3 linked regions of the Homo sapiens genome follow. The protein of the gene in region 1 purifies or fractionates together with the protein of each later gene. This does not show direct contact. Each region holds a gene or a part of one and is shown in the gene's direction. Other genes may lie near its edges.

Evidence for each region.
Region 2: the proteins of SYK (region 1) and CTCF purify together in Homo sapiens (affinity purification with mass spectrometry; one large-scale study listed by BioGRID and IntAct). This does not show direct contact.
Region 3: the proteins of SYK (region 1) and HADHB purify together in Homo sapiens (affinity purification with mass spectrometry; one large-scale study listed by BioGRID and IntAct). This does not show direct contact.

The regions. Positions count from the first base shown.
Region 1 is NC_000009.12:90,808,207-90,811,936, forward strand, and holds part of SYK (tyrosine-protein kinase SYK), read left to right. Parts: intron 1-3,730. UniProt on the Homo sapiens protein: Non-receptor tyrosine kinase which mediates signal transduction downstream of a variety of transmembrane receptors including classical immunoreceptors like the B-cell receptor (BCR).
Region 2 is NC_000016.10:67,625,026-67,628,525, forward strand, and holds part of CTCF (transcriptional repressor CTCF), read left to right. Parts: intron 1-1,529; coding exon 1,530-1,690; intron 1,691-3,344; coding exon 3,345-3,500.
Region 3 is NC_000002.12:26,251,209-26,254,938, forward strand, and holds part of HADHB (trifunctional enzyme subunit beta, mitochondrial isoform 1 precursor), read left to right. Parts: intron 1-3,038; 5' UTR 3,039-3,046; coding exon 3,047-3,110; intron 3,111-3,221; coding exon 3,222-3,266; intron 3,267-3,730. UniProt on the Homo sapiens protein: Mitochondrial trifunctional enzyme catalyzes the last three of the four reactions of the mitochondrial beta-oxidation pathway.

The DNA.
Region 1 (3,730 bases):
ATCCTGTTCTTCAGTCCATCCACTTAGTTTTCCTATGATTATTTTAGCAAGCAGGTGGTTAATTTCCAAGGAATGTAGTTACTTCTTTGGGATTTTTTTAAGTGATGTATTAGTTTTCTGTGTATTTTATTACTTGTTTGAGTGCACCATTACCCCCGTCTCCCGGGGTATCAGTTCATCTGCTTGCATGCTTGGTGCCTCTCTCTCCTGCTGTCAGCTTTCCTGATGTGCTGGGTATTTCCACGTGTGTGTTGGTTTTTTTTTTTTTTTAGGTACCCTAGGCATTAGTCTTTTAAGGCTGCATTCTTGCAGCCTGTCCCACATGAGATAGGAGGAGGGCAAGACCTGGATGTGCACAGGGCAGGATGGGCCCATAACTGGTCTGTGTGGTGTGTGGGTGGCAGGAACTCCCTGTTCTTTGTGGGTATGGCCATGCCTTCCCTATTCAAACGAAGCCACACACCTGTCTTTTCCTGCGAGGCGTCTTCTGCTGCTTTCTTGGAGCTGGGGAGCATCTACTCTTCCCTTGTCCTCCCGCTCCTCCCTGTTCCTCCCTCAGGTCTCTGTCGCTTCTAAGGCACTCCACCCTTGGTCTTCTCCCACCTTGCACCCCCCACACTGCTGCCTGCCTGCACAGGGGGACTGTGATTGCCCCCTTCAGTGTGAGCCTGACCTGCTTCATGCCTTTCAAGGAGAGCATTCATTGCCAAGCTACTCATGGAACATCTCCTCAGATCCTCAGCGTGCTATGACTTCATTTTCTGTAATACTGTTTTTCATGTTTCTTCCCCTTCTCTGCATTTATAGCTGTGCATATGCTTGAGGTGGAAGGCCACCACTTCCTTTTGGTTAACAACACCAATCAGCTGATGGTCATGGCTACGTGAAGGAACTCACAGTGAGGGCTCAGGAAGAGCCTGGCTAGAGCAGGCTGCATCGCAGGCCTTGGCGTTAGGTTCCCCAAATCACTGCTGGTGATCTTGTAGCTCTGTCATGAAGTCTGTCCTGCTTATTAGGATACCGAGGGTCCAAATTCATAGATTCTTAGAAGCCTGTTTAAATATGCAGAGTATCTAATTCAACCCGATTAGAAACGGGCTCAGAAAGGTGAAGGGATTTGTCCAACCACTGAGTGATGCTGCTGGGATTAGAACTCTCAAAACTAGGTGTTTCTAATCCAGAACCAGAATCCCTATCCACTACTCTAATAAGGCGTAAAAGAGGATCTGCTGTCCTGCCTAATTGGTGGGCAGGTTTGGAGTCCTGTCAGCAGCTCAGGAAAGCCTGGAGAGGCAGAGGGAGGACACAGGCTCAGTGTCAGACATGCCAATTTTACTCATCACCAATGGTTACACAAAACTTGTTTTGATCTTTGTGGCTTTTGCATTGAGAAGTTAAGCATATACAATAGGAATTAGACACAATCCCAAACCAATGAGAGACTCAAGTGAGAAGAGCTGAAGCTTTTATGCATGCCTTCCTTCCATAGAGATAAATTTACTATCCAGAGTGAACTAGAGCCTCGTGGAAAGTGAGTGCCGAGCCCCTAGCTGTGAGTGTCTCTGTCCTTCCCACATCAGACCTCCATGTCTGTGGCTGTCCCCCTACGGGGCAGAACTGCTGCTCTCTGCTTGTGTTGCTGTCGTGAGGGTTGGGAGTGGACAGGTGTGGACAGATCTCAGACCCGTTTCCCTCCTGTTATGGAAATGTTTGTGAGGCAGGTGGGACTTCAATGATTTGGTCAAGGAAAGGCAGCTTGGCAGCTGGGGAGAAGGGCTCAGGCTAGAAAGGCAAGCGTTTGTGAGGGATGATTTCCCCAAAGAAGCCAGCAGTGTGTAAGGTATTCCCCGGAGCTTGTTTCTTCTCAGAAGACTCTGGAAGCTGTGTCAGTGTCTGTTATGGAGGAATGGAGTATCAGTCCGATCAGGCTTTCATAACAAAGCACCACATACTGAACGGCTTGAACAGCCCAATGTGTCGCCTCCCAACTCTGAGCCAAAGAGACTGAGGTCAGGATGTCCCAGGGTGGCTCCTTCCAAGGGTTGGGTGGGACAATGTGCCCCCAGCATCTCCTTGGCTTGTGGGTGACCATCTCCAGCTCCACATGGCATGCTCCCTGTGTGCCTGTCTCTGGGTCCAGATCTCCTTTTCATGTAAGGACACCAGTCATGTTGGAGTAGGGCTCACCCTAAGGACTTCAATGGGGCGTAATCACTGCTGTAAAGACCCTGTCTTTAAATAAGGTCACACTCAGAGGGGTTAGGGAGTTAGGACATCAACATTTGAACTTGGGGGGACACAATTCAACCTGTAACAAATGTGTGAGTGAAGACTGGCACCTCCCCACGATGGCCTTTCTGTGATGCCATCAAGAGCACCAGGGAGCTCTCCAGATATGGAGATGGACAGATGTCTAAGGCCCCTGAAATGAGCCTGCTGTACAGATGATTCCAGAACTCTGTCAGTGTGAAGACCAAACACAATTAAGCACATTAAAATACTTACGGTAAAGTGTTTCTTTCACTTTAGATGTGCAAAAACTTAAAGAGAGAGAGACTTATGAGAAGACTCAGGGAAGAAATGTAAGATAAAGGTGTTAAGGGAGACAAACTCCACAAAATTGTAAAGTGAAGCTGCTGTGGGGAGTAGAGCCCAGACCCAGATAATATGCAGGCATGGGTCCAAGGGAGGCTTTGCACACCAGGCGGGGGAGGTGCAGGGCCATGGATGAATGGTCTTGGGAAAACGGCAAATCGTTTGGAAAAAAAAACAAAACTTTGCTCTTTATATCAAAATAAATTCCAAGCTGAACAAAGAATAAAAATATAGCATTGAAATAATGAAGCTATTAAAAGAAAACTTAGGTGAGTTTTAAAATAATTGTGAAGAGGCCTGTCTAAATGTGATAAAACATATGAATTTATATTCACACTCATCACAAGATTGATAAGCATGATTTCCTAAAATTTTAAGCAAATCCCCATAAAATGAAAAAATATACAAATAAGTGAAAAAAATGGTAAGATATATTTAATTTCAATACTTGTGGTAAAGCATCAATAGCTTTAATATGCAGCGAGTTTTTTCAAATCAATAAGAAAAAAGACACAGATGGGTGCTGACAGGGCCGTTTGGTAATATCTTTTAAAATTTAAAACACAAGTGCTTTCACTCAACAACTTCACTTTTAGGAACCTATCACACATATAAATTGACAAAAGTGGAGAAATATTCATTGCAACATTTTATTTTATAATAGCAAAAAAAAATCACTAAGGGAAGTACAGTTGATTCATATGTTGGAATCCTATGCAGTCTTCTAAAAAATGTGGAATTTATTTCATACACCAAATATAACAATGTCCAAGTTCTACTAGTGAAAAAGCAAGATGTAACATATCATTGTATTTGTTTAAAAAACTCATGCTGGGTTGGGTGCAATGACTCATGCCTGTAATTCCAGCACTTTGGGAAGCCAAGGTGGGTGGATTGCTTGAGCTCAGGAGTTTGAAGCCAGCCTGGGCAATATGGCAAAACCCCACCTCTATGACAAATACCAAAAAAAAAAACTAGCCTGGACTGGTGGTGTGCACCTGTAGTCCCAGCTACATGGGGGCGCTGAGGTGGGGGGATCACTTGAGTCCAAGAGGTCAAGGCTGCAGTGAGCTGAGATCATGCCACTGCACACCAGCCTGGGTGACAGAGCAAGACCCTGTCTCAAAAATAATAA
Region 2 (3,500 bases), on another chromosome or scaffold:
ATGATTCTCCTTCCTCATTTTCCCGAGTAGCTGGGACCACAGGTGTACGCCACCATGCCTAGCTAATTTTTGTATTTTTCAGTAGAGACGGGTTTCACTATATGTTGGCCAGGCCAGGTCTCAAACTCCTGACCTCAGGTGATCCACCCACCTTTGCCTCCTAAAGTGCTGGGATTCTTTTTGAGATGGAGTCTTTGTCGCCCAGGCTAGAGTACAGTGCAGTAGCACAATCTTGGCTCACTGCAACCTCTGCCCCCCAGGTTCAAGCCATTTTCTTGCCTCAGCCTCCCGAGTAGCTGGGATTACAGGTTTACAGGCATACACCACCACGCCCAGCTAATTTTTGTACTTTTTAGTAGAGACAGAGTTTTGCCATGTTGGCCAGGCTGGTCTTGAACTCGTCACCTCAGGTGATCCACCTGCCATGGCCTCCCAAAGTGCTAGGATTACAGGCGTGAGCCACTGTGCCTGCCAACTCTTAGACTTCTCAAAGCATGACCCATTCTTTTTATTTTAATTCTACTTTTTGCCTTGGTGATCTTATCAGCTCCCATGGGCTCAAATTCTAACAACTCTTTGTGGCATTGGTGGTACAGTGATAAGCATAGCTGCTTTCAAATCCTAACAACTTGTACATTTATATTCCTACTCCAGATCTTTCTTTTGAGTTAGCCTTATATAACTGTGTATCCCTTGCCATCCCACCCCTGCTTTTATATCTCTGGCATTTCAAATTCAGCATGTCTAAAACTGAAGGTCTAAAACTTCTCTGTCCCCTATGCCCCCCCACCCCCCGACCCTGAAAATAACACATACAACTTGGTCTTAAGCCCTCTTCCACTATTCTTGTCTCAATAAATGACCCCAACAGCTACCTGGTTTTCCAGGCCTGATACCTACTTTATTCTTCACTCTCTACAGTCACTAAATCCTGTTGATTCAACTGCTTCCATCTCTCATCAGTTCTTCCCCTTCCATCCACACCCATTGTCATCACCCTTGTCCCAGCCACCATCTTCTCCCACCTATCCTGTTTGAACAATCTTAATTGTTCTCCCTGCACCTGTTACTCTGCCTTTTCATTCATTTTCTGTATAGCACCCAGAGTAATACTTAAGAATCAGGAGAAATGGGCTGGGCGCAGTGGCTCACACCTATAATTCCAGCATTTTGGGAGGCCGAGGCGGGCAGATCACGAGGTCAGGAGATTGAGACCATCCTGGCTAACATGATGAAACCCTGTCTCTACTAAAAATACAAAAATAAAAAATAAAAAAATTAGCCGGGCATGGTGGCGGGCGCCTGTAGTCCCAGCTACTCAGGAGGCTGAGGCGGGAGAATGGCATGAACCTGGGAAGTGGAGCTTGCAGTGAGCTGAGATTGCGCCACTGCACTCCAGCCTGGGTGACAGAGCAAGACTCCGTCTCAAAAAAAAAAAAAAAAAAAAAGAATCGAGAAATGTATTAGTAACTTGTTAAAATGCTTGTTTGTGTTTTCACATTACCCTGGGCTTTTTACTGTGCTTTCAGGTGTCCACTTGCGAAAGCAGCATTCCTATATTGAGCAAGGCAAGAAATGCCGTTACTGTGATGCTGTGTTTCATGAGCGCTATGCCCTCATCCAGCATCAGAAGTCACACAAGAATGAGAAGCGCTTTAAGTGTGACCAGTGTGATTACGCTTGTAGACAGGTAGGAACCTTCATTGAAAGTTGTTGGTGCTTTCTCGGTGTCTGGTGTTATCAGAGGGCATTTACATATCTAGTACAGTGGCTGTTTTTAAAGATAGTATTTTCAAACTGTGGATTATGAGGAATGTCACCAAAATCAAAGGTCATGCTCCTTGTCAATTGTGTCATCCCGGTGTCCAGATGATGTTTTATTCAGTCACAGCTTACCTCTTCCTTAAGCAGACATCTTTCTGAAAACTGTGGAAAGTAAGTCCAGGACTTGAGAGAGGGGAAGAATCTCATGCGGGGACATGACTGTTGGGAGGGAGCCAAAGAAGGAGCTCAGCAGGAATAAGCAGCTCTATCTGTGCTACAATTATGGAAGCAGTTGTGCACCACACTAAAAATACCTTTATCAAGCCGGGTGCAGTGGCTCACACCTGTAATCCTAGCACTTTGGGAGGCCGAGATAGGCAACAGAGAGAGACCCCATCTCTACAAAAAGAAAAAATTAGGGCCGGGCGCGGTGGCTCGAGCGCCTGTAATCCCAGCACTTTGGGAGGCTGAGGTGGGCGGATCACTTGAGGTCAGGAGCTTGAGAGCAGCCTGGCCAACACGGTGAAACCCCGCCTCTACTAAAAATACAAAAATTAGCCGGGCATGGTGATAGACGCCTGTAATCCCAGCTACTCTGGAAGCTGAGGCAGGAGAATCGCTTGAACCTGGGGCGGAGGTTGCATTGAGCCGCGATTGCGCCACTGCGCTCCAGCCTGGGTGGCAGAGCGAGACTCTGTCTCCAAAAGAAAAAGAAAAAATTAGCTGGGGCCAGGCACGGTGACTCACACCTGTAATCCCAGCACTTTGGGAAGCCAAGGCAGGCAGATCATTTGAGGTTGGGAGTTCAAGACCAGCCTGGCCAACCTGGTGAAATCCCATCTCTACTAAAAAAAAAAAACAAAAAAACACGAAGGTCGGCCGGGCGCGGTGGCTCACGCCTGTAATCCCAGCACTTTGGGAGGCCGAGGCAGGTGGATCACAAGGTCAGGAGATCAAGACCATCCTAGCTAACACAGTGAAACCCCGTCTGTACAAAAAATCAGCTGGGCGTGGTGGTGGGTGCCTGTAGTCCCAGCTACTCCGGAGGCTGAGGCAGGTGAATGGCATGAACCCAGTGAGCCGAGATTGCGCCACTGCACTCCAGCCTGGGCGACAGAGTGAGACTCCATCTCAAAAAAAAAAAAAAAAAAAAAAGTCAGCTGGGTGTGGTGGCAGGCACCTGTAATCGCAGCTACTCAAGAGGCTGAGGCAGGAGAATTGCTTGAATCCGGGAGGTGGAGGTTGCAGCGAGCCAAGATCGCGCCACTGCACTCCATCCTGGGCGATAGAGCGAGACTCCGTCTCAAAAAAAAAACAAAAAAAATTAGCCAGGCATGGTGGCTCATACCTATGGTCCCATTTTGAAGCTGCAGTAAGCCATGATCACACCACTGCTCTCCAGACTTTGCAACAGAGCAAGACCCTGTCTCTAAATATATAGCTTTATCATCTCAACAAGCCGTGTGGAGTCTAGACCTAGCTTGGGTGAGAAATACCTGTTGGCCACATGCATGCAGGTGGCAGCTGGGGCAGTAGCCCCATGAGCAGGCTCTGAGGCCTTTCCCCCTATGCCGTTTCAGGAGAGGCACATGATCATGCACAAGCGCACCCACACCGGGGAGAAGCCTTACGCCTGCAGCCACTGCGATAAGACCTTCCGCCAGAAGCAGCTTCTCGACATGCACTTCAAGCGCTATCACGACCCCAACTTCGTCCCTGCGGCTTTTGTCTGTTCT
Region 3 (3,730 bases), on another chromosome or scaffold:
ACAGGATCTTACTCTGTTGCCCAGGCTTGAGTACAGTAGCGTGATCATGGCTCACTGCAGCCTCGAACTCCTGGCTCGGGTGCTCCTCCCACCTCAGCCTCTTGAGTAGCTGCGACTACAGGCACATGCCACCATGCCCAGCTAGTTTTTTGTATTTTTTGTAAAGACAGGGTCTCACTAGGTTGCCCAGGCTGGTCTCAAACTCCTGGGCTCAAGTGATCCTCCCACCTCGGCCTCCCAAAGTGCTGGGATTACAGGTGTGAGCCTCTGTGCCTGGCCTAGAAAGTTTTGTTATCTGTTGCAACAAGGTTCCCCCTTTTGTTTTTCAACATTTTCTTGACAATTTTCATGAATTTTATTTCAAGATGAACCTTACGTAAGGGAACTTGTAGCCCAGACCCTTGTGGCATTGTAAGTAGCTTCTGAGTGGTGCCTCTCTCATGGGCCTCTTTGTGTTTCTCTGGCCAGAGTCCTTTGAATATCCCTAGGCTGGTGATCCTAAAGCTTGGGCTTCTCCATCTCTTTCCAATCCACATGTTTGGAACATGTTTTGTTTTTTTCTTTTCGGAAGCTATAGGACCTCCTTCTTTTAGTCTCTAAAGACCCAAGAGAAGTTAAACCTTAAAGCTTTTGTATTATCTATTTCTGTGTAGCCAATTACCGCCAAATGTAGCAGTTTAAAACAATACATGTTTACCATCTCATAGTTTCTGAAGGTCAGGAATCAAGGGCACTTTAGCTGGGTTGCTCTGAGTTTCCCATAAGGTGGCTGTCAGAATGTTGGCAGGGCTGGAGTCAGCTGAAAGCTTGCCTGCGCTAGAGGCTCCGCTTCCAAGCTCACTCACATGGCTGTTGGCAAGAGGCATCAGTTCCTCACCACAGGAGCCTCTTCATAAGGCTGCTCAGGACATGCCACCTGGCTTCTCTCATAGTGGGTGAGCTGAGAGAGAGACCACGACAGATGCTGCAGTATCTCTTATAGCCTATCTCAGAAGTGGCATACCATTACTTGTAACATACTTTTTGGTTTATACATTCTGTGATATGGAGAGGGAGGCAGCTAGACAAGGATGTGAATACCAAGAGGTAGAGATTATTGGGGGGCAACTTGGAGGCTGGCTACCAAAGTCTTTGTTGGTAAATCTTGTGGGATTTTTTTGGTTTTGATTTTTTGTTGTTGTTGTTAAAACATGCTTCAAAATTAAGAAATTATAAAAGGTGTGTGATGACAAGTCTTCCACCCCTGACCCCTAGTTACCCAGTTCCCTTTCTTCCAGCCAACAATTATTTTTAACATCTTTATTATACTTCCAGGGGGATTTTATACTGATACAAGGAAATGTACATAATATTTTTCCTCTTTTAACATGAATGATAGCATGCTGTACAGCTATTTTGCACCTTGCTTTCTTCACTTAATGATACAGCTTAAAATGGTTCCGAATTGGTGCATAATCATTTCCTTACCTTTTACAGCTGCATAGTATTTCACAGGGGTGTTGTAGCATGGTTTACTTACCCATTTTCCTATTTTTTGGTTATTCTAATTTTTGACTATTACAGTAACAATATGGATTATGTCCTGTGTGTGAGTAATATCCATGAAGTCAGTTCATGGAAGTGGAATTGCTGGTTCAAACATTAGTTTCAGTTATAGTTTTCATGGATAATTACCAAATTGCCCTCCCCATGGACTGTGCCAGTTCTCTTGGCAGCAGTATATGAGAATATCTATTTGCACATACTCTTACCTACACAGAGTATATATCAAACCTTTGAATCTTTGCTACTTTGAGAGACAATTATATCTGTGGTTTTAATTTGAATTCTTCTTATGAGTGAAATTGAACATCTTTTCATATACTTAAGAACCATTTGTATTTCCTTTTCTGTGGTCTGTTCATATTCTGTGCCTATTTGTCTGCTAGTGTTTTCCTTAGTAATCTGTAGGAACTCATTGTTAGAAATTTAGTCTTTTTTGGAGGGGTGGGGGAAAGTTGTTAATATATTTTACATATTTTTTAACATATAGGGTTATTATATGTTTTACTTTTTTATTGTTTTGAAACAATACAGTATCAAACTTTGAAAAAGTTGCAAGTGCAGTACTACAAACTTTTTTTAGTAGCAGTTGAGATTAAGTTGCTGACATGATGCTTCACCATCCCTATTTAGTGTATATTCCCTTCAGATACAAACATTCCACAAAGCCTTCTACATAATCATAGTACAGCCTTCAGAATCGTGAAACTAATACTAATGGTTTTATTATCACGCCTAGCAGTCTCTCTGCTTCTTTGACCCTAAAGGAGAGGAGCACACACTCTAGAGGTAGACTTCCTAGGTTCAAATTCCAGCTCTGGGCCTGGTGCGGTAGCTCACGCCTGTAATCCCAGCACTTTGGGAGGCCAAGGCGATGGATCACCTGAGGTCAGGAGTTCGACACCAGCCTGGCCAACATGGCAAAACCCCATGTCTACTAAAAATACAAAAAATTAGCCGGGTGTGGTGGCACGTGCCTGTAATCCCAGCTACTCGGGAGGCTGAGGCAGGAGAATCGACTGAACCTGGGAGGCAAAGATTGCAGTGAACCGAGATTGCACCACTGTACTCCAGCCTGGGCAACAAGAGCAAAACTCCATCTCAAAAAAATAAATAAATAAATAAATAAATAAATAAATAAATAAATAAATAAAAATTCCAGCTCTGCCACTCACTAGTTGTAGGTCTTTTGGCAAGTCACTCAATCCTACTATGCCTCAATTTCCTTATCTCTTACAAAGGATGTAATAATCATGCCTCCTTTGTAGGTCATTGTGAAGATTAGATGGTTAATGCTTAGAATAGTGGTTGCTGCAATGTGAAAACCATGTTGGTGTTCCTATCATAATAATATTATTAGATGAAGAATAGTTGATAAGATTAAGTTTTAATGTTTTCTAGTAGCCATGGATGAGGTTATCAGAGTTCATAGACTACAATGTAAACTACAAATTGTTCAGCTAATCCAGGATATACTTTTGTTCTTCTCTTTTTAGATTCCAGAATGACTATCTTGACTTACCCCTTTAAAAATCTTCCCACTGCATCAAAATGGGCCCTCAGATTTTGTAAGTTTATTATTATTTTTTTATTTTTAGAGATTGGATTTGGATTTATAAACATCTCGCACAGATACTGAATGGTATTGCTTTTTGTAAACAGTTTATTTTGTCTTCCAGCCATAAGACCTCTGAGCTGTTCCTCCCAGCTACGAGCTGCCCCAGGTACAGTAATTTGTAAAATAAATATTTCTGATTTAAATGTTAGATTCCAGATTCTATAGTTTGTGAACTCTGAATAAAAACCAAAACTAATTTGCTAATTCTCCCCTTTTTATGAGCACATGAACATCTCTGTTGCCTTCAAATTAAAAAATTATAGGTCCAATCAATAATGATACTACATTATTTAGGATTAGGCTTGAGGATGTTAATGGGAGGCTGTTTTCTGGGATTTGAACCTGCTGGAGTCATGGAGGTTCCATAAACCTCGTTGGTCAGTTTATTTATCCTCTTGCTGTCCGTCCTGGAGGTGAATGGCATACAAATGCTCTTGAGACCTGCTATGGAACCAAAAGTTAACTTTAAATTTGCAATTTGTGAAATGCTTCTCTATTGATGAATATCTTCTTCTCCCATGTGCAAGAGGGCCCATTCCTGAAATAGAAGTGATTAGGAACTAGTTAATA